3 separate regions of the Homo sapiens genome follow, and all the other regions are linked to region 3. The links come from fine-mapping of genetic effects on gene expression. A gene starts in region 3. Each other region holds a variant in brackets. All regions are shown on one strand. Distances are from middle to middle.

Evidence for each region.
Region 1: its variant is fine-mapped to the expression of PTPN7 in whole blood (TOPMed, PIP above 0.99).
Region 2: its variant is fine-mapped to the expression of PTPN7 in whole blood (INTERVAL, PIP 0.97).

The regions. Positions count from the first base shown.
Region 1 is chr1:202,364,563-202,372,742 of GRCh38, reverse strand. All of the region lies in intron 1 of PPP1R12B (protein phosphatase 1 regulatory subunit 12B), which reads right to left. It also overlaps the pseudogene CYCSP4. Among named protein-coding and RNA genes, the nearest start is that of PPP1R12B, 20 kb to the right of the region's middle. RefSeq lists an enhancer at 7,686-8,180. The variant A/C (reference allele first, on the strand shown) is at 4,781.
Region 2 is chr1:202,574,586-202,582,765 of GRCh38, reverse strand. PPP1R12B (protein phosphatase 1 regulatory subunit 12B) reads right to left here. Exons shown (of 24, transcript NM_002481.4): 24 at 1-2,292. The coding sequence ends at 2,206. Among named protein-coding and RNA genes, the nearest start is that of SYT2, 130 kb to the left of the region's middle. The variant C/A (reference allele first, on the strand shown) is at 4,793.
Region 3 is chr1:202,157,182-202,165,361 of GRCh38, reverse strand. It overlaps PTPN7 (protein tyrosine phosphatase non-receptor type 7), which reads left to right and starts at 4,760. Exons shown (of 10, transcript NM_002832.4): 1 at 4,760-4,817; 2 at 5,908-6,081; 3 at 7,061-7,244; 4 at 7,539-7,623. The coding sequence starts at 5,960. RefSeq lists enhancers at 191-691, 1,271-1,939, 5,470-5,549, 5,810-5,899, 6,000-6,139.

The DNA of each region.
Region 1 (8,180 bases), 210 kb before region 3:
GAAGTGCAGCAGCACAATCACAGTTCACTATAGACCTGAATTCCCAGGCCCAAGTGGTCCTCCTACCTCAGCCTCCCAAGTAGCTGGGACCACAGGCATATGCCACCATGCCCAGCTATTTTTTTGTTTGTTTTTTTGTAGAGATGGGGTTTCTCTATGTTGCCCAGCCTCCCAAAGTGCTGAGATTACAGGTGTGAGCCACCTTGTCCAGGCAAAATTGCTTTATTTATTTTTTTTTTTTGAGACAGGGTCTCACTCTGTCACCCAGGCTGAAGTTTAGTGTTGATCTCAGCTCACTGCAGCCTCTGCCTCACAGGCTCAAGCCATCTTCCCTCCTCGGACTCCTGAGTAGCTGGAACTATCCGCACGCACCACCATACCTGGCTAATTTTTGTATTTTTTCTAGAGATGGGGTCTTGCTTTGTTGCCCAGGCTGGTCTTGAACTCCTGGATTCAAGCAATCCACCCACTTCAGCTTCCCAAAGTGCTAAGATTACAGATAAGAGCCACTGGAACCGGCCAAAAATTACTTTTATAATATAAGAAAAACTGATTGGAAAATATAATGAAGGGGCTGGGCGCAGTGGCTCACGCCTATAATCCCAACACTTTGGGAGGCCGAGGTGGGTAGATCACCTGAGGTCAGGAGTTCAAGACCAGCCTGGCCAACATGGTGAAATCCAGTCTCTACAAAAATACAAAAATTAGCCAGATGTGGTGGCACGTGCCTGTAATCCCAGCTACTCGGGAGGCTGAGGCAGGAGAATCACTTGAACCTGGGAGGCAGAGGTTGCAGTGAGCTGAGATCATGCCGCTGCACTCCAGCAGAGTGCAGAGGGCAACAGAGCGATACTCCGTCTCCAAAAAAAAAAAAAAAAAAAAAAGAAACTATAATGAAGGAAATGGCATCCAGAATATCAACATAACAACAAAAAAACTTCTTTTGAATAACGCACCATGTTTATGTAAAATGTTAACATTCAGGAAAGCTGGGTGAAGGGTATACAAATACTCTCTCTCTAAACTATCTTTGCAACTTTTTTGTAAATCTTAAATCACTTCTAAATAAAAAGTTTATTCAAAACAAAACAAGAACGTAAAGAAACAAGGCATAGACCAGGGTAAAATATCTATAATATATTTATCTGACCAAGGACTTATATCCAGAAAACATCAAGAATGCCTACAAATCAATAATAAAAAACAAAAAGCAAATTTAATGTACAAAAGACTGAAATCAGACACACACACACACACACACTCCAAATAATGAATAAATATGCGAAAAGGTGCTGAACATCACTAGTCATTGCAGAAGTGTAAATTAAAACCAAAATGAAATAACACTATACAAACAATGGCTAATATTAAAAAGAAAAGGAAAAAAATGCACTGACAATATTAAATATCAACAAAGATGTAGGCTGGGCACAGTGGCTCACGCCTGTAATCCCAGCACTTTGGGAGGCTAAAGTAGGAGGATCGCTTGAGCCCAGGAGTTTGAGACCAGCCTGAGCAACATAGCAGGACTCTGTCTCTACAAAAAAAAAAAAAAAAAAAATAGCTGGGTGTGGTGGTGCACACCTGTAGTCCCAGCTATTTGGAAGGCTGAGGTGGCAGAAAGGCATGAGCCTGGAAGATTGAGGCTGCAGTGAGCCGTGATCAAGCCAATGCACTCCAGCCTGAGTGGCAGAGTGAGACAGAGAGAGACTCTATCTCAAAAAAAAAAAAAAAAAAAAAAGATGTGGAGCAAATGGAACTCGTGTTCAAAAAAAATGACAATATCAGATATCAACAAAGATGTGGAGCAAACAGAATTCTAATTCATTGCTAGGGGTAGTATAAAATGGTACAACCACATCAGAAAACAGCAAGTTGCTAATAAAGCTAAGATTTTACATTCTCAGCCGGGCACGATGGCTGATGCCTGTAATCCCAGCACTTTAGGAGGCTGAGGCAGGTGGATCACCTGAGGTCAGTAGTTCGAGACCAGCCTGGCCAACATAGTGAAACCTTGCCTCTACTAAAAGTACAAAAAATTAGTTGGGTGTGGTGGCAGGCGCCTGTAATCCCAGCTACTAGGGAGGCTGAGGCAGGAGAATCGCTTGAACCCGGGAGGCGGAGGTTGCAGTGAGCTGAGATCGTGCCACTGCACTCCAGCCTAGTGACAGAGTAAGACTCCATCTCAAAAAAAAAAAATTATATACTCTATAACCCAGCAATTTCATTCTCAGGTATTTACCCAAGAGAAATAAAAACAATATGTCTACAAAAAGATTTGTAGACTACTCACAGCATCTTTATCATCTTTATTCATAATAGCAAAAAAAAGGAAATAACTCAAATGTCAATAATCAGAAGAATAAACTAATTTTGGAATACTCACACAATGGAATACTACTCAGCCATAAAAAACAATAAACTATGGATACGTGAAAAATGAATAAATCTCAAAAACATTATGTTCAGTTGAAGAAACCAAACTTTAAAAGGTACATATTCTATATTCCTTTTAAAACAGCTAAAACTGAAAGAGTGGGATGTCCGGCTTCTGAACAGGAAGTTCGTAGTACCAGTGATGAGAGACAGAATTAAATATGGGTGATGTTGAGAAAGGCAAGAAGAGTTTTGTTCAGAAGTGTGCCCAAGGCCGGGCATGGTAGTTTACGCCTGTAGTCCCAGTACTTTGGGAGGTGAGGTGGGCAGATTACTTGGGCCCAGCAGTTCATGACTAGCCTGGACAACATGGTGAAACCCCATCTTGATAAAAAATACAAAAATTAGCCGGGTATGGTGGTGCATGCCTGTAGCCCCAGCTACTCGGGTGGCTGAGGTGGGAGGATGGCTTGAGCCCAGGAGGCAGAGGTTGCAGTGAGCCAAGATCGTGCCACTGCACTCCAGCCTGGATGATGGAGCCAGAACTTGTCTTAAAAAAAAAAAAAGTGTGCCCAATGCCACACCATGGTAAAGCGAGGCAAGTACAAGAGTGAGCCAAATCTCCATGGTCTATTTATGCAGAAGACAGGTCAGGCCACTGAATTCTCTCACAGACGCCAATGAGAACAAAGGCATCACCTGAGGAGAGGAGACACTGATGGAGTATTTGCAGAATCCCAAGAAGTACATCCCTGGAACAAAAATGACCATTGTCAGCACTAAGAAGAAGGCAGAAAGGGCAGACTTGATAGCTTATCTCAGAAAAGCTAATAATCAGTAATAATTGACCACATGACTTTTTTATGTGTACATAATTTAATAGCTCTCTAATATACATCAGAATTCAAATCATGAATAACTCACAGAATATTTTTGTTGAGCAGTCCTGATTTAATTAAGACTCGCTTGTGGTTAAATGAATACATTTGGGTTTTTTAAAATTTTAACAGTAATTCTGATTCAGTAAATGGTATCACTGTTTCCCCCTTCTAAAACTATGATTGGACTTAATTCGTAGTGTTCAACTTTTCACAAAGATGGTGAATGCCATCTTAAAACCTATTAGAGATTGGCTTTATATTTAGATTTATATAACTAGCTATATGAATATATTTAAATACTGGGGAAATGTCTTCACTGTCTCAGAACCAAGCAAGACCCACCTGTGTTCTGCGTTCACGTGCCTCTTAAAGGCAAAGACTAAAGATAAGGTAACAATGTCTACTTTATATTTCTGGTCTTAACTATGTCAATTTAATTAGAATTCTCTGTGTCTAAAATGGTTCCTTGGCTGGGCATAGTGGCTCATGCCTGTAATCACAATACTTTTTTGGGGCTGAAGTGGGAGGATTGCTTGAGGCCACAAGTTGGACCACATAGAGAGACCTCATCTGTACAAAAATTAAAAATAGCCAGGCATGGTGGTGCATTCCTGTAGTCGTAGCTACTCAGGAGGCTGAGGTGGAAGGATGGCTTGGGCCCAGGAGTCAAGGTTGCAGTGAGCCATGATCCTGCCATTGCAACCCATCCTGTGTGACACAGTAAGACCCCATCTCAAAATAAAATGGTTCTTTTAACTTATTAAAAGGCATTTTATATGGCTTATATATATCAAATAAAGAATAGTTAATATTTCTTGAAAAAAAAAAAGAAAAATACAGCCAACACTAATTCTAGAATGATAGAAATTATAACAGTGGTAGCCTGGGGGAGGATGAAGGGGTGGTGGGTAGAACTTTCAAAGGAGGCAAAAATGTCCTATTTCTTGATTTGGGTGATGGTTACCATATTAGGCTATTCTTGTGTTGCTATAAAGAAATACCTGAGGCTGACTAGTTTATTAAAAAAAGAGATTTAATTGTTTCACAATTCTGCAGGCTGCACAAGCATGGCACTGACATCTGCTTGGCTCCTGGGGAGGCCTCAGGGAGCTTTTACTCACAGTGGAGGGCGAAGCGGAGCAAGCACATCACAGGGCGAGAATGGGAGCAAGGTTGCGGGGGGCAGTGCCAGACACTTTTAAATGACCAGATCTTGGCCGGGCGCAGTGGCTCACACCTGTAATCCCAGCACTTTGGGAGGCCGAGGGAGGCAGATCACCTGAGGTCAGGAGTTCAACATCAGCCTGGCCAACATGGTGAAACCCTGTTTCTACTAAAAATACAAAAAATTAGCCGGGTGTGGTGGCAGGCGCCTATAATCCCAGCTACTCGGGAAACTGAGGCAGGAGAATCGCTTGAACCTGGGAGGCGGAGGTTGCAGTGAGCTGAGATCACACCACTGCACTCCAGCTTGGGCAACAAGAGCAAAACTCCGTCTCTAAAAACAAAAAAACAAAAAAAAA[A/C]CAGATCTCCTGAGACTGCACTCACTATCTTGAGAACAGCACCAAACCATGAGGGACCCTCCCGTATGACCCACACACTTCCCACCAGGTCCCACCTCCAACATTGCAGATTACATCTCAACATGAGATTTGCGGGGGACAGATATCCAAACCATATTGGTTACATGGTTGTATACGTTGTCAAAACCCATCAAACTGTAGATTTAAGTTCTATGCATTTTACTATATGTAAAATTTACCTCAATTTAAAAAAATGAGAAGGTGAGGAAAGTTCATCTGAAATTTTTAGATATCATGGCCTGGAAGTGCTTCACTACAAAGGTGACATTTGCAAGCCATGTGTGTAGCTGATGGAATAGCATTCCAGGCAGAAGGAAAAACAGATGTGAGGCCCTTAAGCATCTATTCCTAGCAACTGGAGTTTTTGAGAAACAAGGAGGACACTAATGTGACTGGAATGGGTTGAACAAGGGAAAGACAAGTACTGAGAGCTAATGGGGGATCAGATGATACAGTGTCTGGTAGGTCACGGTAAGACTCACTAAAGATTTTTATCCTCATCTTAGTCTAAAAGAAAATCACCTAAATGCCTACTAAGAATAAGGCACTGTGCACAGACAGCTTACATAAAGCTTATGTAAGTAGCAAAACCAGGATTAGAAACCAACTATGTCTGATTCCAAAGCTCATAATCTTAACCACTTTGCTTTACTAACTAAACATAACAATACTCAATATTTACTGAATGCTTACTATCAATACGTTAGAGCTAAAAGGCTTTATATCAGATCTTCCCAATCATTTATTGTTCTAAAATGGCTTATAAGTAGTGTAATGTAAAGATCTTCTGAATAAAATTTTGTATTGTATTAAAAATGTTTTGCAACCAACTAAAAATTCAGGATGGGTAAAGTTATATTTAATTCATATAGTTCTCTACATAAACTTCCTAATTATAATTTTGGTACAGAAAACTATGCACATGACTTCACTATATGGAACCACTTAAGTACCATAGTTTTGGTACATAAAACTATGCACATGGCACAGTACAGTGACTCCATGAAATAGCCCCTTCTCTTGATCTTCCTGTTGAATCATTTTAGTCTATATTTTTATTTTAGTCTACATTGTTTAACAATCAGTGAGGTTCTACGTTTTGCACCCATATGTAAATGAAGTTTTCTATTTAATTTGCTCTAATAGCACCACAATTTCTAAATGTATGTTTGTCATCAAAAGCATTATAATCAACATCATCATTATTAATACATCTGGTATTATTAGGTGTTCCTAAATAAAACATAATTTTGTAGTTTCTTAGTCTATTTATTTAATATTCATACATTTTTATTCTGTTGCTCAATGTCTGATTTTTAATGTATTTTGTTATCATTACTGTATTAAGAAAACACAACTGATTTTTTTTTTTTTTTTTTTTTTTTGAGATGGAGTCTCGCTCTGTCTCCCAGGCTGGAGTGCAGTGGTGCGTTCTTGGCTCACTGCAACCTCCGCCTCCCAGTTCAAGCAATTCTCCTGCCTCAGCCTCCCGAGTAGCTGGGATTACAGGCATGTGCCACCATGCTTGGCTAATTTTTGTATTTTTAGTAGAGACGGAGCTTCGCCATGTTGGCCAAGCTGGTCTCGGACTCCTGACCTCAAGTGATCTGCCCGCCTCAGCCTCCCAAAGTGCTGGGATTACAGGCATGAGCCACCACACCCAGCAACAATGAATTTTTATACCAAATTTGCAAATATTCTCTAGTTTACCAGGGGTCTTACACAAATGTCGTCTTCTGTGTATACCATGACATGAAGGAGGTAGGAAAACAATGCTTTAGCTATTACTTCACACTGAGTAGGTGCAGAATTCTGATAATATAAAAATCTCAGTAGTAATGGAATGCTAAAAGAATCCTATCTCTATAAAACTATGTCTCTAAGAGGTTTTTTTGTGGGGGGGCGGGAGTGGAGGGACAGGGTCTTGCTCGGTCACCCAGGCTGGAGTGCAGCGGTGCAATCATAGTTCATTGCAGCCCGAAACTCCCAGGCTCAGGTAATCCTCCCGCCTTAGCCTCCTGAGTAGCTGGGACTACAGAGGTATGCCACCATGCCCAGCTAATTTTTGTATTTTTGTAGAGATGGGGTTTTGCTATGTTGCCCAGGCTAAGATCAAGCAATCCGCCCACCTCAGCCTCCCAAAGTGCTGTCATTACAGGTGCTAAGAGGCTTTTAAAAAAATAAAGAGGTCTAAATGGAGAGGTGAGCCAGGATTTCAGAAAACCAGCACAACCTAGGTAGAAGACTAAAAGCTTCTGAGTCAGACAGATGTGAATTTAAATACCAGCATGACGTGTGATCCCTAGGTTAGGACAAATTACCTTCTTTGATTCTTCTTCCTCATCATTAAGTGGAATAAACCACCTATTTGGTAGAGCTGTTGATGTAAAGATAATTTTTAAAAAGCAAAATGCATAGCAACACTTGGTATAAAGCAGCACTCAGTAAAAATTACTTTTTTTTTTTCTTTTTTAGAGACTGTCTCACTCTGTTGCCTAGTCTGGAATGCAGTGGTGTAATCTTGGCTCAACCACCCTGGCACAAGCAATCTTCCTGCCTCAGCCTCCTGAGTAGCCACAACTGCAGGCGACCACAATTGGCTTTTTTTTTTAGACTTAGGATTTCCCTGTCTCTAAAAATGCCCAGGCTGGTCTCAAACTCCTGGCCTCAAGTGATCCTCTCGCCTTGGCATCCCAAGGTGCTGGAATTACAAGCATGAGCCACTAAAGCTGGCCACAGTACTTATGGTAATTTTAACATACCATGAGTTCAACTATGTTAAAATATTTGCAAAAGCTAAGACAGCCTGAGGAAGAACAAAGGAAAAAAAACCAATTAATATGTTAGGGTGGTATTTGTACTAATTGTTTTTTGTTTTAAAAAATTTTGCTGGCTGGGTGCGGTAGCTCATGCCTGCAATCCCAGCACTTTGGGAGGCTGAGGTGGAAGGACTGCTTGAGCCCAGGAGTTCAAGACCTGCCTGGGCAACACAGTGAGACCACATCTCTACAAAAAATTTTAAAATGAGGCCGGGCGCCGTGGCTCACGCCTGTAATCCCAGCACTTTGGGAGGCCGAGGCGGGCCCATCACGAGGTCAGGAGATCGAGATCATCCTGGCTAACACAGTGAAACCCCGTCTCTACTAAAAATACAAAAACTTAGCCGAGCATGGTGGCGGGCGCCTGTAGTCCCAGCTACTCGGGAGGCTGAAACAGGAGAATGGCGTGAACCCAGGAGGCGGAGCTTGCAGTGAGCCGAGATCATGCCACTGCACTCCAGCCTGGGTGACAGAGCAAGACTCCGTCTCAAAAAAAATAAATAAATAAAAATAAATAAATT
Region 2 (8,180 bases), 420 kb before region 3:
CTACAGGCGCCTGCCACCACGCCTGGCTAATTTTTTGTATTTTTAGTAGAGATTGGGTTTCACCGTGTTAGCCAGGATGGTCTCGAACTCCTGACCTCGTGATCTGTCCACCTCGGCCTCCTGAAGTGCTGGGATTACAGGCATGAGCCACTGCACCTGGTGGAATTGGGATCTTGAATTACAGCTTCTAGTTTAAACAGCATGTGGTGTTTCAGAGGGAGGACCATGGAGAGCTACATGTCATGTTAGGAAAGAATTAACAGACAGAGGTAGTATATATTAAGGGAATGAACCACTCTAAACACTGAATATCACTGGCAACCCTAAAATGATGAGGATTTAATGACTTGCACACTCAAGTGAACCAAGGGATAAAACTCCTACAAAAAGAAAATACTGTAAGTATTAATGCTAGGTTATCATCAAGAACTAATGGTTTAATTTTGCACTGGATTTGTATTCTTTCCAGGCCTGGACATGATATTTTAAAGGCTGGTTTTGTCTAGAGGAGGATGGCCAAGATGTGACAGGTAAGAAAAGCATGCCATATGAGGAATGACTTAAAGGACTAGAGTAACAGCAGCTCAAAGTAAGACTGAGGGGGAGACCACCCACTGCACATATCTCAAGTGCCGTTAAAGAGTTGCAGATAGTAGATCTGGACTACAAGGAGAATCCACAGGCAGACTTCAGCTGATATGAGGAAAAACTCTCTCGTTATTAGAGTTGCCCAACTTTTGAGTAATAAATGCATAGCCACCAGAGGCTACCTGACCATGCCCATGGGTGAAAGCTGTGGTAGCAGGGGTCCCTGTGACACAATAATAGAAAGCTGGACCTAATGACCTCTGGGTCTTGCCACTCTAAACTTCCATGACTCTCATCAATGGGTTGAAAGTACTTCATTCCATTAAACCTCTATTAAGTGCCATTTCCCCTATTAATTTCTAAGAAAGTAAATCTCTCTGCTAAATCTAACCACTGGAAATAATCAAATTCACCACTATTCTCACAGCCCAGTAGGCTGCTATCTTCCATCTTCTTTGTCACAATGTTGCAAGTGGCCTCAGATACTTGACTTTCGCCATATGTGTCTTTCCAGCCTGCTTCCACTTCCTAGTCCATCTCTCAACAATCTCCCCTCCCCACCTCTCATTCCTCCTTGCACTGACTTCATTTCTCATTAGAAGCAGGTGTCAGGGCGAAGAGAGGAAAACAAGGTCAAGGAAGTGAGGCAGAATGGAGTATTCAGAGCCCAAATTTTCTTATAAAGAAAATCACTTTGAAGGGGGAAGATAAGTGGGAGACGAAAACAATGAGCTGACACTTATGCCATAGTCTACCTTCCAGGGAGCAGGCAGTGGTGCTGCCACCAAGGCACCAGAGTGATGATTTTCTTGTCTCCAGAATAATGACTTCCCACAATGGCCAAAGACAACTGAGGTCAGGTGCTCTGTCCTAGCTTTTATACCATTGAGTGAGGGGGTGGGGAAGGGAAAAATATAAAAGGATAGAAAGGAAAGGAATAAATGAAGCCAGGGCCATTTGCGCCTTGGAGAAATGGCTAGGTATGAGGGAGGAATAAGGGTTAAAACTAGTTAGGGAGATTACTGGGTGTTGACAGAAAAAATAAAAGTCAGTTCCTGAGAGGTGAAGAAGAATAGAGCGCCTCAATGCAGTCACTGTCACCTTGGATGCTAACCATTCCAGAGGGCATCTGATGATCAATTCAACATCCTGCTGTTTCTCTTGGCACCCCAATCAGGATCCTGGAGTGGCTACCACAAGACTCACCTATATCAGAGGACACTGGGTTAATGTAAAAAGCTGAAGGATACTGATTAGGGTAGAAGTCTTACATGTTTGGACCAAATCCAATGTGGACAAAGTAGCTGAGCAGCAGGAAGTTGAGGGGTCCACAGCTGAGCCTGGTGTACTCCCCAGAGCATTCTCCAGATGGCTCGAATTACCACAATCATGCTTCAATTAAAACTGTCATAAAACTTGGGATAGGGGTTTGGAAGAACAGGGCATTGAAAGTGCAGAGAAAATGTAGAGTGTATAGAGGTGACTGAAGAGGGTGATAGAAAGAAGTGTCCTTCCACCAAAACATCCATTTCTTTTGGTTGGAAGGCAAGGACTGGAAAAGAGGGGTGGGGGCAGCAAATGCTGTCCCTTTCTTTCCTCATAAATCTGGAGCCTAGCCTACTTGGACAGTTTGCTGATGACTCTGATGAGGGCACCATTTTCATCTTTCAGCCTCTGGTTGTCGGATTTCAGTTCTGTTAACACCTGTAGGGTGACAGAGGGAAAGGTGAGTTAGAGCCTGGCAGGATCCTCCTTGGCCCTCCCTGACCAGGCCAGGCCAGCCTGGTGAGCAGGGCCTTTTGAGACAATGTGTGGAATAAACTCTCATGGTCCCTTCTCCCAGGGATGAAATTCCCTTCAATCTTCCTTTTTATTGAGTTGGTAATGTTAATCTTTAGGGAGATTATAGCCACTCCATCTTTTGAGCTGGCATATTTAGCAGTAATATCTTATTTCTTCATAGGCAGACCTCACATTTCACACTGTATATCCTTTCATTCTACTGAATCAGTAACCACTTTCAATTTCTCCTGCCCTTAAACTCACCCCTAAAGAAATTGGGGAGAGAGCCAAAATGGGCTGGTGAGGACATAGGGAAAGAATTCAGAAAGGGGGTGGTGGTCAACTAGAAGAGTTAAAGGAGGATACTGCTTCACATCTCATCAAAAACAAGAGCAAAGGCCAGAGAGGCAGTACTCGGCTTTCTTGCCATATGCACAAGATGATTTAAGCATCCTCCACTTGGTGCCTTCGGTGAATAATCCTCCAAATTCTCACTGGTCATACTATACATATCCACTTTCAACAATTAAAACTCAGAAAACTTACACTCACAGAGCTGTGAGGCACAGTGAACACTAGGCATGTATTTAATCCTCCCCAAAGCTCCCCACTGACAGTCACCAAAGGATACCCAGAGGCCTCATCAGCAGTTTTAGGGGATGGCATTGTAATTCACAGAAATAGATGCTTGTTGGGCAGGGGAGGGAGTGGAAACTCAATTTTATTAGTTCTGCTATCCTGGAACATTACACATACTGTTGTCTAACTTGTGAAAAAAAGGAAAAATAGCCTCAAGTTCCATCCTGGAAGTTCAAGTCTTTGTTACATGATCAGGCACTTTCAACAAGTACGCTGTGCATCTGAAAAATCCTAATGGGATGTTGATAAGGGTACAGTTTATGTGTGGGTCCCACTGGCAGCAAGAGCGATTTAGGATAGCAGGTAAGTACATCGCCACTATGCAGGCTACAGAAAGCTACATCTGTATCTGTTCAATACAGGTGTCCTTTGACTAGTCATTTCAACCTATAGGACCCCAGGGGCAGGTAATGCCCCCAGTAAAGGGTGACCTGTGCTGAGGTGTTATGAGGCCTATTTAGTTCTAGCTCTGGCTCTGCTATTAACCACTTAGGAGATCTAACTGTGCCTTAAGGAATATAATCTGTTTCCTTGATCTCTCAGAGAAGATATAGGTTAAATTATATAAATATATGTGTATGTACACAAATATGAATCACAGATACATAAATAATTTGTATCAGGGAAATAAAAAGAAAATTACTGAATATCTATAATGTGGATGGCACTGTGCTAGAGGGTCTCCCTAGTGCCTCATGAGACTATGATACAGTTGTTATCCCGATTTCTACAAATGGGGAAATGAAAAGTGCCATAACTAGTTCAAGGCACCCAGCAAAGCTAATATTGAATCCCAGTGTGCCTGACTCCAAAGATCATTCTTTTATTACACGTGGGATGGAAAACAAAACACCAAAAATGTTTGACGCCTAGAAACTGAAATTCCAGCATTGTCTTTGTCACTAGTGATCTATTACTTTAGGCAGATCACTCGCCTTCTCTGCATTTCCATTTTTGTACTTTCGTAAGAACAACAGTCCCTGTCCTACTCTCTCGTATGGTAGGGACTCTGCAAGGCTCACAGGAGGTAACAGATGTGGAAGTGTGTTGACATACATAATGAGCTTTGCGATACTGAGTGTTCCTACAATCACTGTGAGTTTTCTCATGACTGTGGGAGGGCAGGCAAATAATCTGCAAACTTTATTAAGAAGACTTAATCCAGAAAATATAAAAATAAAGTTGCAGTCCTTTGACCCTGGTCTCCTACCTCTGATTTAATCAAAGCAGCTCTGGCTGCCCTCTCCTTCGTTCCTCTATCCCTGTAGCCTTGCCTACCAGACTGAATGCTTGGAAACTCATTTCAATGAGATTTTTAGAAAAAACCCAGGGTGGCCTCATGTTTCCGTGTTCAATCTGCTCTTTAACGCCCCATGCTGGGGCTGCAGCTTGGGTATAAGTGAGACGAAAGCCACATTTCCATAATAGGTAGGAAGAAGCTATATATGGCAATGGATTACATTTCACTGCTTAGCAGCTCATCAAATCAGAACTAAGCTGCCTTAAAAAATGTATAAACAACTTGTAGAGTCTTGTAGAGTTTTAGTGATTTATTTCCACATTAAGAAGTCAATTCCTTGAAAAAAAAATTTGGACAAGGCAGTTTTGCAGCTGCAACATGCTACAATTGACATCTAAAGGGAGTGGCAAAAAGTGTTAAGAGGTGGAATGTAGAAATCAAGGGGCGGGGGAAGCCCCACAAAGTTCAATCTCAGCAGAGAGAGGGGGAAATGAACAGTGTTATCTGATATCCACTTGAAGTTAAAGAATGGTTAAATAAGAA[C/A]ATATGTGAAAGTACGATATAAGTATGAAGTTTAGCAAAGCTTTATCATTTTAACTCTCTGGATCTTAGTTTCTTAATTTTTAAGTTCCCAGCTTACCACAATTTGGTGTTAAAGATACCCTGGGCAAATAAAATTAAGTACACATTTCTCAACTGTTACTTCTTACAGTCTTTGAGGAATGTGTTAAAGAGGAAGGGGCTACAGGGGTCCTAAAGCTTCAGAGACCTAGAGCAAGGCTAGCTGTAGGTTGAGAGGGACTCAGGATGAGTCTTGCATGAGCTGTCTTGCTTTTAACTACAAGGAAAGTGGGAAGGGAGTCCCCTCTGGTATTTTGTTGGTAAGTGGTTTGCTCTACATGCTGAGATAAGATGATTTTTCCAGGGAACTATTAAAAAAAAAAAAAGGTAGAGTAAAATCTCTCGACTGCACTGCCAGTTTGGCTTAGTTATCTCATCCTTCCTTCTGGCAAGAATCGGCAAGCTTTTTCTGTAAAATGCCAGACAATAAGTATCTTAGGGTTTGCAGGTCAAACAGTCTCTGTTGCTACTCCTCAGCTCTGCTGTTGTAGCACAAAAGCACCCATAGACATAACAATAATATGTAAACAAATGAGTTTGGTTCAGTTCCAATAAAACTTTTATTTTGGACATTGAAATTTAAATTCCATATAATGTTCGTGTTCATATGTCGTAAAATATTATTCTTCTTTTGATTTCTTTTTTGACTATTTGTATGGCTTATGGGCCATACTGGTGGTGGGTCACAGTTTGCTAACCCTTGCTATGGTCATGTACCAGGCAATGGCTTTCTTTACAGCAGCAAAATCTTTTGGTAGGTAAATGGCTCTTTAGAAGTTAGGCTTTGACAAGGAAGTCACAGTGCTCAGAAAGCAGAATGCTGCCCTTCCTCCCTCAGCTGCAATGCTGGGGGCACAGTGTAGTTGCTCAATAGATCCTTCTTGCATTGTTTGGGCCACATGCTTAACAAATGGTGAAAACTGTGCCAAATATGCAGACAGCTTATATTACAGTGGTGAAAAGTTTGCACTCTGGAACCTGACATATTTGGTTTGAATTTTGGTTCTACCACTTACTCTCGGAGTGACCTTGGGCAAGTTATTTAATCTGTGACTCAGTTTTTTTTTTTTCATTTTTACAATAATTGTTTTGGGGAATAAATGAGAAAAACTATATAAAGCATTCAGCACAGGCCTTAAATAAATGACAACTGTTAAGGTTATTAACTACTGAAAGCATGAGATCTAGTTTTGCCCCATATCCTATACTATCTTGCAACAAAGGGATACTAAAAATAACTGGGACACCTTTTGGGGGGTCCCTAGTTTAGCCTAAGTAAAAATTTCCAGGAATCTTGAGGCTAACTTTAAAGCATGGAGTCTGGACCTAACAGTGGCTGCTTACAGCCAGGCCATGGTAGAACTTGCCTTTCAATTTTCTTTCTGCCTATGATAGCATCTACAGCAGGATATTAGCTCAGCCCTATGATAATTCGGGTGATTCAGTTCTAGTGGATATTAGTTGCCAGCTACTAACCCTGAAGGCAAAAGCAAATAGGCTGAAAGAAAGAACAGGCTCTGGTCAGGACTAATTAGATTGTTGCTGACAATTAAAAATTCATCTCAGAGGAGTGGTGACCCCATCATACCATCTTGAGATAGAAAAACCAGTTGTCTGTGAGCTTGTCTTTCAGATCCATAGCTAGGGAAAGGATCCAGTTTGCCAAGCACATTTTTGGTTCTCAGTTGAAAATAAATCCTTGCTCTCTGCTCCACTGCCTGCCATATCCTTTGCAAAGCTGGCCTCATTAGAGAGGGCCTGGCTCCATGAGGGTCTCATTTATATAGGCTGTGTTCTGCCTCACAGCCCACACACTAAGGACAGGGAGGGGCACATCCCTAGGGCCCAAAGATTTGTGACGGGAATGAGAGATATGCCTCCTAAGGTGGGAGAAGAAAGCAAAGACTACTGCAGAAGGAGGCAAAGAATGCTTATCCAATTATGCTTGAATAATGGGATGCAGAGTGTTTTTGCTGGTAGTGGAGCTGGACAGGAACAGTTCCAACCTTGAGTTTTAGTCCTCTCCATCGGTAATGTTGTCAGCCGTGAGGACTGTCTGGTATCCAAAGGGCTGTGGTTCTTAACCATGGTTGTATAAGGAATCAATAGGAGAGGTTTGAAAAAATACTGATGCCTGGGTCTCAACCCAGACCACTGATTATTTGGGGATGGACCCAGACATCCCTATATGTATATGTTAAAAGCTATGTATATGTTTAAAATATACCCATAGGTATACGTTAAAAGCTCCTAGATGTTTCTTGCAGCCAAGATTGAGAGCCCCTGCCCTTGGTTACCCAAGGCCCAACCCCAGTTGCTCCAGGGGAGTGGGTTGGACTTGGGTTGCTATTGGCTAAGAAAGATCAATTTCCATCTGGCAATGACCCCGTCAATGAAATATGTATATGTGCATGTACACAGGTATATGCACATACACGTGTATACCTATGTGTAGCTGAGTGAACAAATTCATACTCAGTCTCCAGGGGAAGAGAAGCTAATGTGGTGACCTTACCAAATGAATATATTGGTAGCCCAGCTGAGGTCTCTCTCACTGCCTCCCTTGACCTAGGCTGGTATGTCCCATTCTATGATCTCAGTCCTGGCTGCTTCCATCTGCAGATAACCAAGCTTTGCAGGAACCTGCATATGGAGGCTCGGATGGAGGGGATGAGCACAGAGCTTCTGGGACTAACAAGAAGACTGAACCTGCCTGGAGTAGTGGAGGAGGGAAGTGAGTTGGAGAGTAGGGGCAAGAACTAGAGCTCCTGGGTGTCCGAGGACTCGATGGACTCCGAGAGTCTGGCCACCACTCGGGTCAGGGCCCTGTTCTCAGCCTGCAGTTGCTCGTTCATCTGCTTCAAGGTTTGAATCTGTTTTAGCTGGTGGAGGTTCTGTAGAGATTGAGACATGAAAAGGACAGACAGAAAAGACAGAGAGAGACAAGACAGACCAGAGGAGAGAAAAGTAGGACAAAGAAATCACATGACTTTTTGTTTTTGTTTTTAGTTTGCATGCAAGAAAGGAAATGAGAAAGGCAGGAGTCATGGAGCAAATGGGTGGCAGGTGGAAGGATGATGGAGAAAAGCAACAGGGAAGGAGAGCTATGTCTGATTCTTGGCTAAGATCTAAATATGCCATATGAATATAACTGCCAGGCTCTCAAAAGGCACATATGGATTGCTTTTGAGAATGAAAGTCCAGCATGTGGTTTGGAGCCTTCTGAACCAAATTAACATGGTTGAGGCATAACTTCAGGGACCCTTCATCATGACTGAGATTAGAGCTGAGGACTTGGTGTGTTCTTAAA
Region 3 (8,180 bases):
GCAGCCTAGGGGACCGGGAGACAGGGCCCCTAGAGGTTCTGATAAATAAGCTGGGCATGGTGGCTCATGCCTGTAATCTCAGGACTTTGGGAGGCCAAGGTGGGCGGATCACCAGGTCAGGAGATCAAGACCATCCTGGCCAAAATGGTGAAACCTCGTCTCTACTAAAAATACAAAAAATTCGCTGGGTGTGGCGGCACATGCCTGTAATCCCAGCTACTCGGGAGGCTGAGGCAGGAGAATCACTAGAACCAGGGAGTTAGAGGTTGCAGTGAGCTGAGATGGCACCACTGCACTCCAGCCTGGTGACAGAGTGAGACTCCGTTTCAAAAAAAATAAAATAAATAAGCAGCAGCCTCCCCAGCCCAAACGTCTCCATTCAGCAAAAGAAAAGGTACCACGAGGGCTGTATCTCCTCCCCAGCAACCACCCCCACAGACAAACCCACATCCTCTCCCTAGAGAACCCCTGGGGTTCCCCCCCGCTACCCTGAGGTCTCAGGGCACCTTACTGATTCCTTCTGGAGAGAGCCAGCCAGGAGGCAGAGGAGAGAGCAAGGGGCAGGTCTGGGAGTGCTGGCTTCCAAATGTGAACTGGCCTGGCCTACAGCTGTCCCAGGCAGCGCTCTTCCGGCCCCTCCCTGCTCTCCCACAGCCTGAAGCCTGGCCTTGGGCAGCCCCCACACTGGAGGAAGATAATCACCGGGCAGCAGAGGGGCAGGGTGGCTCAGGACAGCCAAGTCGCCCACTCCCCCTGCTGCCTATACTATGGGGAAGGTGGCCAGGGAGTGGGGGAAGGCCTAGGTCCCCCTGACCAGGCCATGGGAGAGCAGGGGAGGGGCTGGTCATGTGTGGATTGACACTGTGCATGTGCATTTGTGCAAACGTGGGCCATGAGGGTGTACACACCTGTCTGGATGGATGTATGAGTGGGTGTCCGGGGACAACACAGAGCGGGAGGGAGACGGGAGCCCCTGGGAAGAAAAGGCCACATTGTAGAATAGATGTCCATTTGGCTGGCTCTGGGCTTGGGAGAGAGGGAGGGACTCTTCTATCCTAAAACCTTCCTGCCAGGGTCCTGAGTTCCAGCATCGGGCAAAGAACCAGGCACTTTCCTGGACCTCCTGGCAGGCTGGCCCTGGCATCCCAGTGCCAAGCAGGGCTGGATTACTGGTCCTCTCAGCCAGGGGTAAAGGGTATGGGATGTTCCCCTTCATCCAAAAGGTAGCAGGAGGTCCCTAGCTGGCCCGGCACAGGGTTGAAGCTTTGAGACAGGGGTGCAGTTGTCACTCTGGTCAGCCTGGACTTATCCCATGCCCTTAACAGCACTTCCCTGCCCCACTCACCCTGTCTCCCCTGCTGTCTCCCTGCTTCCTGTGGGATGAGGCTTCCCAGATCCAGTTCTTGGTGTTTCTGTCTCCCCGACACAAACAGGAACAAGCCAGGGCCTACAAAGTTGGGGCAGAACAAGCCAGCTCAGGCTGGCCTAGGGTTTTGGGGGTGGGAAGGATGGAGGAACAGCCACCCGAGATCCTAGTGCTTCTCCAGAGAGGAGCCGAGGAGGGCAGCTAGGAAGGGGGCAGAGCAGCTGGAGTGTGCAGGACCCAGCAGTCCTGGCCCCAGGCAGCTGACTCTCTCCCCAGGATCCTCCCCTTGGATTGTTAAAAGGTGGCAGCCTTTGCCTCTGGGGGCCAACTGCTCCCCAGCAAGGAGCTCCCTACTCCCTAGGGGCTGGCAAAGAGCAACGACTTCTGGGAATTCCAGATGTAATGTCCGCCTTTCCCCGGGCCTGGGCTAGGGAGGGGGGCGCTTCTGACACTTGGGGCAGGGAGCTGCGGCTCACAGCCCTGGAACTGGGAATCACTAGAGGGGAAAACAAGAGAGTCAAGACGTGTGTGGCCAGAGCTTGGGAGGGCTGAGGGCACCCACCACAGCCTCAGATGGGACAAGGCTGACTCTCAAGATGCATCATGCCCTGCACCAGTCCCTCCCCAGCCTGGCCTGGTGGCTTGGGACACCCCTCTTTGTCCTCCCTGGAGTGGACTCTGTCCCACCCGGGATGCTGGGAGACCCCTGGGAGTGACTCCTTCCTGCACTTCCTCAGTGCTCGGCTGGAAGTGCCCCGGCAGCCCGGGTTCAGGGAGAAAGTCAGCAGTGAGGAGGAAGAGGGAGGCTGGTGAGAGGTGAGACCCGGCAGCCATGACCTCCTCACCCTGTGCTGCTCCCAGACCCACTTCCCCAGCCAGCTCCTCCCAGCTCCTCGGTCCTCTGGCTGCTGACTCCCAACCTCTCCTCCGTGAGCAAAGCACACCATGGGCTGACAAGGGAGGTGCTATGATCATCCCCCAGTGGAGGGAGGAAGCTGAGGAGGAGCCTGAGACTCAGCAATTTGCCCAAGGTCACACAGTTAATAAGCTACGTTTAGACTCATTATGCATAGATCTTTCTGATTTCCAACTATTACTATACTTTCTCTGGAGTCGAGGGTGGCTAGAACCTAAATCTCAACCCAGGAACACAAATCGATTCGAGTGATGGAAGTTTGAGAGCTGCTGTGACCTTTTGGCCCCAGGGGTGGGAAGGTTCTGGAGGGGAGAGGGAGTCACGCCCAGGAGCCTTCCAACAGCCCGGATGGGACAGAGTCCACTCCAGAGAGGGCAGAGAGGGGCGTCCCAAGTCACCAGGCCAGGCTGGGGAGGGGGAGGTGCAGGGCGATGACGCATGTCTTGTGCCATCTGAGGTTGCAGTTGGCATCCTCAGCCCTCATGAGCTCTGGCCACACACCTCCATGGATGTCCAGGTATCCCTAAGCACAGGGGAAGAAGGAGTGGGCAGGAGCCAAGGAGTGACTGTCCCCTCTACCCCACATCCACCCAGAGGGAACAGGGGATCTTTGAGAGGTCTTGCCTAATGCTCAGCCACTACCCCCACCCCCAACCCCAACTATCTTCCCCATCGCCTGGCTCCCAGCTTCCTTGCTGTGAAGCTCAGCTTCCAACTGTCCAGCCACTGCTAGGCCTCAGTCTGTGGGGGAAAGGGGTGGGCTCACAGCCAACAGGGCTCAGACCCTGGAAACTTGGGGGGACCAGGCAGACCTGTGTGGGGAGGGCTTTGCCGCTTCCTCCTCCCACCCCTGTGGTGTCCTAGCTTCCTGTTCTTGATAACAATCAGCATAGGCTCAGAGCCGGGCCCTCTTTCCAACCCCCACCTGCCCCCTCCTGTGTCCCCAGGGCCCCCACTACCCACCAGTGGAAACACTGACTGGTGTGGGGGGTGAGGCAGAGGCCAGTCTCCAGGTCACTGCTCGCAAGCATGTTAGGGATTCCCAGGTTCCTGCTTCCCTCCAGTCTGTCCTGAGCACGGGAACCAACCCCTTTCCCAGCCCTAATCGGCCTCCTCCTCAGGGAAACCCACCCACTCCGGAGAGGAACGCAGGCTGCAGGGAAGGAGGTGCCAGGATCAGCTGGCCATGGAGGGGCTCAAAAAAGAGCCAGCCCCTGTCCCCACTGCCAAGAGCAAGGGCGGGTGCTGGGAGGCCTTCTGAGCCTCTGGGGGCTGTTCTTGTTCTTCGTCTCAACCCTCCTCCTCAAGGGGCCAGCAGAAGGCCAGCCCCCTCCCGACCACCCCCTCCGGCATGCCTACCCCCTGTGCCTAGGGTACCTCATTTCTTTTTTGCTGTCACCATTTGACAGCTGAATCAGGGAAGTGGGAGGAAGAAAGAGGACGTGGATTGTGCATGTTGGGGGCCGGGAAGGGAAGGGCGTTTGAAATGTTACAAGGTAAAAGGAGGCGTGCAGCGAGCATGAACCGGCTGGGCTGCTGGCCCGCAAGGAGCCTGCCAAGGTCAGGCAGGGGCAGTGGGCAGAGGAGTCTTGGACTTGGGGGCCACCCTTCAGGTCCCAGGCATCCAGGCACCCCAGCAGCGAAGAGGACATGGGAGTCCCCTGGTGTGAGGGCCAGAGACTGTCCACTGTCTGTAAGTCTTCTAAGTAGATGTCAGGGTTCTGGGAGGAGGCCTGCAGGGGGCTGAGGGCCCAGGGGAAGCCCCTCGGACTCCCTCCCACAAGTGGACTCTGCTATCTGCTTCCTGCTGGGCTGGCCTACACTCAGGCCGTGGGCTGTGGAGAGCTGGGCCGTGGCACAGGCGTGGAGACGACCTTTTTGGCCTGGCCCCGGCCCTTTCCTTCACATTGTGAGGCATGGATTCTTGCTTCTTCTTTTTCCCCACCCCGAGTCTGTGCCACATCTGCTCTGGGAAGATGTGGTCTGTGCTTGGCCATGAATTCCCAAGGCTTGAAGCAGCAAGGGCTTTGAGGGAGAGGGCCTTGAGGGAGAGGGCCTTGAGGGAGAGGGCTGTGGGGCAGAAGCAGAGAAGGAGAAATAAGCCTCCGGCCAAGGTCAGGTTGAGCAGGAGAGCCTTGGGTTCTTTGTGGGACAGCACAGAGCTGGGGGTCAGGCGAGCTGTGCCCAGCAAGTAGGCAGCGGCTGGATGTGACAAAGACCCAGAGGAGAAACACAGAAGAGGGGAGAGGGTCTGGAAGCTGGGGAAAGCAGGATGGTCGGGAAGGCCTGGCCCCTCACCCATTCCCAGGGAACGGGGCCTTGGGCCCCAGAAGGGCACAGGCGGGAGGCAGCCGACCCCTGGTGGCAGCGGCAGCAGGCACAGGAGGGCAGAATGCAGCTGGGGTGTGCGTGGGTGGCAGCAAGGAGGGGCGGAGGGAGGAAGCTGGCTTCCTGGAGCCTTCTCAGCCCTCAAAGACAGACCGACAGACAGACAGACAGCTGGCAAGAGGCAGCCTGGGGGCCACAGCTGCTTCAGTAAGTATCTGAAGGGGGGACTGGGAGTCCTGTGGCCCCGGGGGGTGCGAACTCCGGGGATATAAGAGGGCATCTCTAGGAGGGAGTGCGGGAGGGCGAGTGGGGCGCCACAGTGCCTGGCTGGGGTATGGGTGCTCACAGACCTGATGTCCCCAAGACGGGGGTGAGCAGGGAAGCCACAGGGAGCTACAAGGAGAGCAGAGGCTGAAGGGACCTTTTCTGCTACCAGAGACCCTCGCTCTACCACTCACACCTGTGCCAGGCCCATTCTGTCCCCTCACCTCCGTCCCTGCTGCCTTGGTGATTCAACACCCCCGCCACCTCGCCCACTGTGACCCTGGCTCTGGGAGATAGGGACTGCCCCCAAGAGGAGATGGTCCCACCACCTCCATGCCTCCTGTCTTGCCCCCAGCTGTCGCCTCACCATGCGCTGTCGTTCAAGGGCTTGGTGAGGCCATTTCCTGTGACGGTTACAGAGGCGGGAGACGGGGGGATGGGCAGGAGGAGGAAGGAAACACCTCCAGCCTACCTCCCTGGACAGAGACCCCAGAAGCCAGAAACAGACCTGGGAGTGGAACAGCAGCAGTTAGGAGAGGACCCTGCTGGGGTCCAGGAGCCCGCCTGCCTGGCTGCCCAACCAGCTCCAACACTGCTGGAGGCCTCCATTCTCTGTTCAGGGGAAGGCCCACTGGTTAGCTCAGAGATGGCTTCTGCGTGCTTTCTCCCTTCCGTCCTAGAGAACACATATTTTCTGTTTCCTCCCTTGCCTTCTCCCACTTGGACCTGCTCAGAGCCCTGTGTACTCTGGTGTGTGGCCTCTCTCCCCTCTCTCTTTTCCTCCTTCTGGATTCTTTCCTATCTTCATCCACAATCTCTACCCTTTATCTTGCCGTTACTCTACCCCGAGACTGCCTTCTGCCCTGGGTCCCACCAAATAGATCCTGTCCTTCCCTTAGTGAAAATGAGGCCACCTCTTGGGGAACAGAAGACGCCCCAGTGAAAACAGAGTGCAAACCTGGCCTGGCATGGGAGCCTCCTTCTGGCCAATCAGGCAGGCCAGAGAACAGCAGCGGAGGGCCCTGTCTTTCAGGCAGACCTCATGGCTGAGTGAGCCTCCCCTGGGCCCAGCACCCCACCTCAGCATGGTCCAAGCCCATGGGGGGCGCTCCAGAGCACAGCCGTTGACCTTGTCTTTGGGGGCAGCCATGACCCAGCCTCCGCCTGAAAAAACGCCAGCCAAGAAGCATGTGCGACTGCAGGAGAGGTGAGATCTTCCCTGGGGGAGGGGTCTTCCGAGCCCTGAGCCCCCATTCCGCTCCTCCCTTCCTTCCATCTGCCCCTCCAGCTCTGACAGCAGGGTCCAGAGGGCCCTCAGTTGTTGACTCCAATTTGGAAAGGAAACCAGTAGTGCTCATTTGCATGTCTTTTGCATGTCTGGAGCACAGAGTTTCATATCAACCATGAGCCTGCTCCCTAAATTCCAGGCAAGGCCCACAGCCTTCTTGGTGCTGGATGCATGTCGGAGCCACAGGGCCTGGCTGGGAGTGGGAAGAGGCAGGCAGCTGGAAGGAGCAGTTGAGTTCAAGGCTGCCCTGTTCTGGCTGACAAAGGGAGAGGGCTGAGCCAGGCATGGTAGCTCATGCCCAAAATCCCAGCACTTTGGGAGGCTGAGGTGAGAGGATCTCCTGAGTCCAGGAATTAGAGACCGGCCTAGGCAATATAGTGAGACCTCCTCTCTCTCAAAAAAAAAAAAAAAAAGAGGGCACACAGCAGGGGCCCAAACCCTAAATTTACTGGGCTACCAGGTTAAAGGAAAGATAAAGAGCGGCCCCCTCAGAGGTGCCTTATAACAGTAATACTTGTAAGAAAAGCAAATATGGTCAGGCACAGTGGCTCATGCCTATAATCCCAGCACTTTGGGAAGCCAAGGCAGAAGGATCACTTGAGCCCAGGAGTTCAAAACCAGCCTGAGCAACAGAACAAGACACTGTCTCTCCAAAAAAAAAAAAAACTTAAATTAGCCAGGTGTGGTAGCATGTACCTGTGGTCCCAGTTACTCTGGAGGCTGAGGTGGGAGGATTGCTTCAGCCCAGGAGTTTGAGGCTGCTGTGAGCCATAATAGTGCCATCACACTCCAGACCTGGGCAACAGAGAGAGACCCTATCTCTAAAAGAAAAGATAAAAAGAAAAGAAAAGCAAATATGATTGGGTGCTCACTAGGCAGTGGTGGGCTATGCCTGCAGGCGGGGCTCCAATGTGGCTCTGATGCTGGACGTTCGGTCCCTGGGGGCCGTAGAACCCATCTGCTCTGTGAACACACCCCGGGAGGTCACCCTACACTTTCTGCGCACTGCTGGACACCCCCTTACCCGCTGGGCCCTTCAGCGCCAGCCACCCAGCCCCAAGCAACTGGAAGAAGAATTCTTGGTAAGAAATTGGGGTCCCCTCTGAATCGCTCTGCCCTCTGTATCAGAGGCAGCCAGCTGGAACCATTCTCTCACGGGCACCCTGGGCAAGTCTCCCCTTTGGGCCCCTTAGGAAAGAGAACTTCAGGGCTGAGGGAGGGGCTGCCCCCAGGCTTCCCCTTCTGCCCCCACCCCATCTAGGCCTACATACTATTGTCAAGAAGGAATGGCCAGAGTCCAGCTGTTCTAGAAAAAGGTAGAAGGAGAGAAAAGGAGGCTAGGAGTCAGCTGCTCACCCATTTCCTCCCCCTGCCAGAAGATCCCTTCAAACTTTGTCAGCCCCGAAGACCTGGACATCCCTGGCCACGCCTCCAAGGACCGATACAAGACCATCTTGCCAAGTAAGAACTGCTGCTGGGATGAAGGGAGTCGGGTACAGTCCCTGGGGCTAGAGAACTTCAGAGGACAAAGTACACAGTTTCAGCCAGGGAAGATCAACCTTGCTTGGCACATCTTCTCTCAGCAGAGAAAGGGGGAAGAAGGAGCAAGAATCACAACAGCAGCAATAATAATGTTTGCAGATATGTACCCTGGGCCAGGCCCTGTTCTCAATCCTTTTTTTTTTTTTTAAGACGGAGTTTTCACTCTCGTCACCCAGGCTGGAGTGCAATGGCGCAATCTGGGCTCACTGCAACCTCCGCCTCCCGGGTTCAAGCGATTCTCCTGCCTCAGCCTCCCGAGTAGCTGGGATTACAGGCATGCGCCTCCATGCGTGGCTAATTTTGTATTTTTAGCAGAGGTGGGGTTTCTCCATGTTGGTCAGGCTGGTCTCGAACTCCCGACCTCAGGTGATCCGCCCACCTCGGCCTCCCAAAGTGCTGGGATTACAGGCGTAAGCCACCGCGTCCAGCCTCAATCCTTTATATTCACTCATTTCTCACAACAATCCCATGAAGTT